Homo sapiens: one gene and its partner. The protein of the gene in region 1 interacts with the protein of each later gene in a biochemical or structural test. Each region holds a gene or a part of one and is shown on either strand. Other genes may lie near its edges. The genes, in order: ZCCHC14 and TENT4B.

Evidence for each region.
Region 2: the proteins of ZCCHC14 (region 1) and TENT4B form a complex in vitro, tested with the Homo sapiens proteins (one study listed by BioGRID).

What each region holds. Positions count from the first base shown.
Region 1 is NC_000016.10:87,423,425-87,427,024, reverse strand, and holds part of ZCCHC14 (zinc finger CCHC domain-containing protein 14), read left to right. Parts: intron 1-3,143; coding exon 3,144-3,215; intron 3,216-3,600.
Region 2 is NC_000016.10:50,151,397-50,155,502, forward strand, and holds the start of TENT4B (terminal nucleotidyltransferase 4B), read left to right. Parts: upstream 1-1,909; 5' UTR 1,910-2,225; coding exon 2,226-2,863; intron 2,864-4,106. UniProt on the Homo sapiens protein: Terminal nucleotidyltransferase that catalyzes preferentially the transfer of ATP and GTP on RNA 3' poly(A) tail creating a heterogeneous 3' poly(A) tail leading to mRNAs stabilization by protecting mRNAs from active deadenylation.

The DNA of each region.
Region 1 (3,600 bases):
TGGCGTGCACGCGAGCCCGCGTCCCGTCGGGTTTTTGCTCTGCTCTGTGGACGGCTGCCTCGTCTTCCTGCCTTTAGTTGAGCGTTTCATTCCTACTGGCCTGGTTTTCATTTCAGAGAACTCTTGGGCTCTGACAGTTGTTTTTTCATAGCATCCTGTTCTCGGATATGCCTTCTTCTCTTAGCTTAGTAAGAATATTGATGAAAATTTTTTAGTTTTCTTAGAGTCCACGCTTTCCCTTGGCTGCTGTGTTCTCCTTGCTGGCTTTGCCTGTCTCTGTGCTGGGCCTTGGCTCTCCTCAGGGGTCTCCAAAGGTCTGGGGGATCCTGGGCTGCCTGTCCCCTTAGGGGTGTGGCTGAGCCCTGCCCCCAGAGGTGCCTGGCTGAGCCTTTTCTTGTGCAGAATGAGGCCGCATGGCTCCAGTGGCTCTGGAGGGGGAGGCTGTGTGGAAAAACACTGATGTTCAGAGCCAGTCCACAGTGAGCCGGAGGAACTAGACCCTGCGTGTGAGGACATCCTGAGCATGCACGGGCTGTGTGCACATTGGGCTTTGGGGTGTGATGAAGATGCATTACAATTCGTCCAGATAAGGCTAAGTAGCTTTTCAGGGACGTGATAGAAGATGCTGTGCCAGAATCTAATTGGCAACACTTTTTCTTGGTGAAATGTAAAGTAATGGGGTAGCTGGTTGTGGATGCTTGTGAGTATGGTTGGACACGTGTCCCCATAGTACGGGTCAGGCAGGTATGACAAGAGGATGCTCTTCCCGCCCCCATGCCCCTCTAACGGCCGGTTCCCCTTCTGGCTCTCTGGGGCAAGTCGGCAGGTGAGGTAGAGGGCTTGGCTGGGTCTGGATCGTGGCTGCTGCAGCTTAGCCATCAGCCAGCATCACCTGCAGAGCGAGCGACATGGGCTGGTCTCCGCCTGACTGTGCGGTCTCTGTTTCCAGTGCTCACTTTCTGATAGCCTTAGGGAGGAATGTGAGCTGCACCTGCAAGTCAGAGAAAAATGTATCCGAACACAAAGTAGAAGAGTCCTGTGTAATTAAAGTGCATAACTGTTGGAAAAGCAGATTGTCTGTTTCAACATAAGATGATCTGTCCATACCATGTTTAATCGCTGGGGTGGTGGATTTCACATCTTCCCTGGGTTAGGGCGCAGTAGGAAAGATACAGCCTAGAGGCAGGTGTGAGAGCTGTGCAGAGGAGACGTTTTCTATGACACGCTTTACCTTGAAAGAGACACGCTGTCAGCAGCGCGGGGGACAGCCATCTTCACGGCAGGGGTTTGTGTCTGTTGGTGGTGGTGTTCTTGGAGTTCTGTGTGGGGAGCAGCTTAGGAACCTCTCCCCAAGATTTTTGGTGTTGAGAGATTTTAATATTTAAGGCAGAGAAGGAGCTCAAACATTTTCTTTTCTTTTCTTTTCTTTCTTTCTTTCTTTTTTTTTTTTGATAGAGTTTCGCTCTTGTTGCCCAGGCTGGAGTGCAATGGCGCGATCTCGGCTCACTGCAGCCTCCCCCTCCCGGGTTCAAGCAGTTCTCCCACCTCAGTCTCCCAAGTAGCTAGGATTACAGGCGCCTGCCACCATGCCCGGCCAATTTTGTATTTTTAGTAGAGACGGGGTTTCTCCACGTTGGTCAGGCTGGTCTTGAACTCCTGACCTCAGGTGATCCGCCCACCTCAGCCTCCCAAAGTGCTGGGATTACAGGTGTGAGCCACTGCGCCCGGCCTCAAGCATTTTCATTTTAGGTGTGGAAGATTCTGGGTGGCAAGGTGCACGCCTTGCAGCCGTTAGTTCCAGGGACGCTGCTGCTTGCCTTGATGAATTCTGGTAGGCACTGGGGTTCTGGTGAAGAAGAGGTGGCCCTTTCCTCGACTGGCCTGTGTATTATGAGGGCGTGATGAAACAGACCCAGGAGTGACGCTACGTGATGTGACGAGACTGGCCTCAGTTTCAGCAGGCAGGAGGGTGGACACCTCGGGGACTAGACTGCAGGCCCATGGATGTGGGTGTGGGTGTGGGTGAGGGAGCAGAGGTGGTTTGGGTGCCTGTGAGCTCTCTTTGCTCTAAATCAGTGTTAATACAGCGTTTTCTTTTGCATAATGTATTTGGTCATTTTATTTGCCGACTTGAAATCCCCCAGCTTCTTGTGGACTTGAGTGCAATTTGCATTTGGTGCTTGTCCCTTCCTGACCTGGCCTCCTCCCTGTCATTTCAGGCCATCCCCTCTGTCCATCTCAATCCTGTAGCTAACTTCTTATTTGCCTTTCAGAAGTCAACCCAAGCTCTTCTCCATGCAGAAACTCCCTCTAATGTGCAAAAAGTACGCTCTCCTTCCCCCTCAGTCAGCTTTGTTTAGCACCTCATGTGACGAGCATTGTGATAGCCAGGGGAGAGCTGAGCAAAAAGACACCGCCCCTTCCCCCCTGGAGCTTAGCGTGCATGTGGGGAGATGGACCTCCGTGGAGCCATGCAGTGACACCGCCCGCTGCTGCATGCTGGGAAGGAAAGCTGATGCTCACAAGGGCTGGGCACACCAGACGTTGCAGAATCTCCTCCAGAAAGCCCTTTTCACTGCTCTTCCCCAGCAGTGATCACTGCTGCCCTAGTGATCACTGCCCTGTCCTGTTGCTATCAATGGACTCACACTGTCCCCACAGCTCTGCAGTGTCCTGAGAGCAGGGCCTGGGCTCACTGTGTGCCCACAGCACCTGGGCGGGCGCACCACGGGCCCTTACCGGTGGTCGAAGGGCTGCTCTCTGGGAATGTGTCGCTCTTGCATCTGAGGCACATAGGCTCACTTAAGAAGAGGAGGTCCCCTGAGGAAGTTGAACAGGGCACACACAAGCAATTGTCAGGGATTTTCTAGAACTTACAGGAGGCAGCTGTAGACCCCACTCTGGAGTAATTTGGTGATATCTGAATAATTGCATAAAACAAGTTAGACTTTAGAGGGCCTGGAGCTATGTGACTCTTCTTTCTGTAACAAGTCAAGGGATGCTTAGGTGCTTCCCACAGCAGGTGCACGGCCCACTGGGCTCAGCTGCCGACTGAACGTGTGCCCCAGTCGTACCAGGACACGTGCTGGGAACCAAGTATGTGGTGTCTGTTTCTAAGGTTTGTTTGTTTGTTTGTTTTTAAGGTCTTGTGGTCTGATTCTTCAATAACATCAGTAACCAAATCTTCCTCTGAAGTGACGGAATTTATTTCAAAGGTAAGGTAATCAAGGGCTCTTATAAAAATTAAAAGAATCACATTCCCCAGTGGCTGATGATACCACGGAGTAATTTCAGAGGCCACTCCCTTCAGCTAGCGAGTGAGCGTGCGCAGGGCGGGGCCTCCTGCCCAGCCACAGTGGAGTCCCAGGCCCGCTGCTGACATGAGCGTTGCTGCGAGCACAGGTCCGTGACCCCGCGGATGCCTCCTTCACTTGTTGAGACTGAGATGAGGCTGAGAGATGCGCCGGGCATGAGCGACTGATGAGGACATTTGGTTTCTTTTGTTACTTTTCAGTCCCCCAGGTTTCCTTGGCAAAGGCTGGGGGAGAGAGGCATGCTCAGGTGGCTGAGTGGGTAGAGACTTCACCTAGTTCTACCTTT
Region 2 (4,106 bases), about 37 Mb from region 1:
ACTTGGTGAAGCCCCACTTCTTTGAAATGTGGATCTTCTGGCAGCCAGGGAACTTGAACTTGGCCCTGAGCAGGGATTCAATCACATGCTCCTTATTCTGCAGCTTGTTGCAGATGGACATGATAACTTGGCCAATGTGAACCCTGGCCACAGTGCCCTGGAGCTTTTCAAAGGCACCTCGAATATCTGCCTGGAGCCTACATTGGCGTAGTGCAAGGTCAAAGACATGAACATACATCTGAAAGGCCTGTCTCCATGGTCCCTTAGAGCAGCCCATACAAGAAACAGGCTGCATAAACTACCAAGGAAGCTGTTGTTTGCAGCTGAAGGGTCTTTGTGTGTTTTCCGTATTTCTGGTCGTGCTATTTATTCTCTTACCAAAAAAAAAAAAAAAAGTAAGGTCAGGCGTGGTGGCTCACCCCCTTGTAATCCCAGCAGTTTTGGAGTCTGAGGTAGGAGGATCGCTTAAGTCCAGGAGTTCCAGACCAGCCTGGGCAGCGCAGAGCAACTTCGTCTCTATGCCATGTTGACGCGTGCCTATAGTCCTAGCTACTCGGAGGCTGGGGCAAGAGGATCGCTTGAACCCAAGAGGCCGAGCCTGCAGTGAGCTGTGAATGAGTCACTGAACTCCAGATGACAGAGCAAGAGTTAGTCTCGAAAGAAAGAAAAAGGTAGAGCGACACTTAGTTCTTTGATAGTTTTCCACTATTTGTCATAAAAACTTTCCAGGATATTGAGCTCCCAAAATGGAAGGCCAATATCAGGCATCAGGGACTTGTTCTGGACGTTGGACCAACCTTAAAGGGCCCACATAGAAGCTGTTCACTTACTTTCTTTTAGTCTCTTGATTTAAAATACTTAACATTCCCCTTTCCTTGGCTTTTTAACCACTGAGATTTGAAAGACATGCAAATAACGACCTAGTGGACAATCTTTGCTGATGCTAAATCTTCATTTTAGGATTAAAAGGTTTTGGGTTTTCTTAAAATTTAATGCTGAACTCAGAAGAGCTTTCTAAGGCTGTTGGTGCACCTTAGGGCAGGAGAGCGTCTTTGCTACGCCGCGCAGGAGTGTGTCTGCTTCTCTGTGCATCTACACGTGTTTGCGTGTCCCTGTAAAGTGGGTTGAGTGTGCGGCTGCGGCTTTCCGCCCTTGGCTCACACTCTCAGTCTTAGTGGTCTCCCCCAGGGCTATGCATGGGGTACAGGTTTCTGTGGCCTCAGGCCGGGGTGAGGGGTCCCCCACCCCGGCCAGGGCGCAGCAGGGCGGGGCACACGTAGCCGTGCAGGGTCTCGCGCAGCCCGCGTCAGGACCCCGGGGCACACGCTCGGGCAGGGGGCGTGTCCCCACGCCACCAGAAAAAGTGTTATAGGCTGTTTTTTTTTTTTTTTTTTTTTTTAAAAAGAAAGTGTTTTAGAAAGCAGGCAGAAGCCAAGACGTCAGGAAGGGTTGCGAGGGCCCGGGATCCGGCGGCCACAGGGATGGGAGGGGCGAGGAGCGAGGGGCGGAGTGGCACCTCCCACAACGCGCTCCCTGCGGGGCGGGCGGCAACCTCCATGCGGCCTCGTCCACGCTCAGCACCGGGGAAGCCGAGGCGGAGAAGCCGCGCGCGCCTCAGAAGCTCCCGGACGCCCAGGTACGTGGGAGCACTCCACAGATGGCGCAAGTACGGTTGGGCCAGGCGGTTGCGGCCCCGTCGCGCCGCGGCCTCTGTGACGCACGGCGAGGCCTCCCGGGCTGCTGCGCGGCGCAGCGGGGGCGGGGCGAGCGCGTGAGGGCGGGGCGGTGGGGGGGGGGGGCGGAGCGAGAGGGGCGGAGCCGGCAGAGGCCCCGCCCCGGGGCCGGAGGAGCGAGGACGCTACGGAGCAGGCGCGTCTCGCTGCCGCCGCTGCCGCCGCCGCCGCTCGCTCTTCTGTGGAGCCGCCGCCGCCGCCGCCGCCATTTGCACGGGGACCCCAGTGACAGGGGCTCGGCGGAGGGGCGGAGGGGCGGAGGGAGGGGGGGAGGGCCCGCGGAGCCCCCGAGGGCGGGAGCGACGCCGCCGGCGCCGGCCGGGCTCCCTGCGCGACCGCGCCGCCCGCGGCGGGCCCCGAGCAGCAGCAGCAGCAGCAGCGGCAGCAGCGGCAGCAGCAGCAGCAGCCGAGGCCGGGCGTGCGCCTGAGGCGGCGGCGGCGGCGGCCCTGCGGGCGGCCGGGAGGGGCGGGGGCAGCGGCCGCCGCCGTTTGATGGATCCGAGGATCGCCTGGTTTCAGCCAGAGCAGCTCGGACCGTCCAACAGTCTGTGGATGCAGATCTGGGAGACGACCCAGGGGCTGAGGAACCTCTACTTCAACCACCACTGTCACAGCAGCGGCGGCGCGAGCGGCGGCGGCGGCAGCAGCAGCAGCAGCAGCACGGCCACCGGCGGGAGCGGCAGCAGCACCGGCAGCCCCGGCGGCGCGGCCTCGGCCCCGGCCCCGGCCCCGGCCGGCATGTATCGCTCCGGGGAGCGCCTGCTGGGCAGCCACGCGCTGCCCGCGGAGCAGCGGGACTTCCTGCCCCTAGAGACGACCAACAACAACAACAACCACCACCAGCCCGGGGCCTGGGCCCGCCGGGCGGGCTCCTCGGCGTCCTCGCCTCCCTCGGCGTCCTCGTCCCCGCACCCTTCGGCCGCCGTCCCCGCCGCCGATCCAGCCGATTCGGCCTCGGGCAGCAGCAACAAGAGGAAGCGCGACAACAAGGCCAGCACGTATGGACTCAACTACAGCCTGCTGCAGCCCAGCGGAGGGCGGGCCGCGGGGGGCGGCCGAGCAGACGGCGGCGGGGTCGTGTACAGCGGGACCCCGTGGAAACGGAGGAACTACAACCAGGGAGTCGTGGGGTGAGTGCTGGCTCTGCGGCCCGATGGCCTGGCCGGTGCGAATGCGCAGCCGGGCACACGCCCACAGAGGGGGGTTGTGAGGGTCTAGGAGCGGCCACCCCCACGGCCTGCCTTCGCTGCTGTTGCACGGGGGTGCTGCTGGCCATCCCCAACCCCCCAGTCGTTCACACCTTTCCCCAAGCCTCCTTAGCCGTCCACACCCTCCGTCTCCTGTCCTCCCTTAGTCGTCCACACCTTCCTCCCCTCCCTCTTAACCGTCCACACCTTCCCCAGGCCCCCCCCTTTATCCATTCACTCTCCTCCCATCCCCCTTAGTTAAACACATCTACCCTTGACCACCACCCCGCCTCCAGCCCTCCACACCTTTTTCCCCATCATCACAACTCAAGATGAGACCGCTTAGCACGGGCCTATCATTCATTCCCTGAGAACATTGGTGTGTGAGTGTTTTTTGATGGTGCAGGACCCGGAGGTGCTTTCCTTGCCAAGAATAGAAACATCCAGAATGCTCCTCCCCATCCCCCAATCCCAGACAGCAATTATGTCAGCCCTGTAAGGCATTGCCTGCTCTTGACCCTTTGGCCCATCTTTTTATTTTTAAAAAATTCCCATGTCACAGATGCCCTGTCTATGCAGAGGGTGGCGTGGGATGGGTGACCACTAAGTTTAGGCTGGTGAAGGTGGTGAGCCCTTCTGAGGCCCTGATAGAACTTTCCAGGAGTTCATGGTCCGCGGCTCCAGCTTCTCACTGTAAAGTTGTCATCCTGGCAGAGGCAGCCAATGCTTTTCATTCTAGGGGGTAGAGATTTATGCTAATGAGTGAATATTGCACCACTAGTGACTTTCTGTTTAAAGTTCAGCTCTTAGAAAATGGAATCTTACCTGACCCCTAGTGAATTATGTACATAAGCAGGGAATGTTTCCAACTAGATCTCCCTTCAGAAGAGTCCCTGTGCTGGAATAGGTCACTGAATCTTATTTGTTTTGTAAAACAAAGCTTTTGGGTCTCGTGGGTGTGTGTGTGTGTGTGTGTGTGTGTGTGTGTGTGTGTGTAGCTTGAGTATGGAGAACCGGCTTTCAAATTGCTTTTCATTTTTCAGGTTGTGTTTTACATTGAGGGCTTTAGCATGCAAATGAAATTACCAATTAGTAATCCCATGTGAACCTTTTCCTGGATTTATTCATTCAGATCTGCCCTGCTTTGGCTGAGAGAGAGAGTTCTGTGTACCTTTTTGAAGGTCTG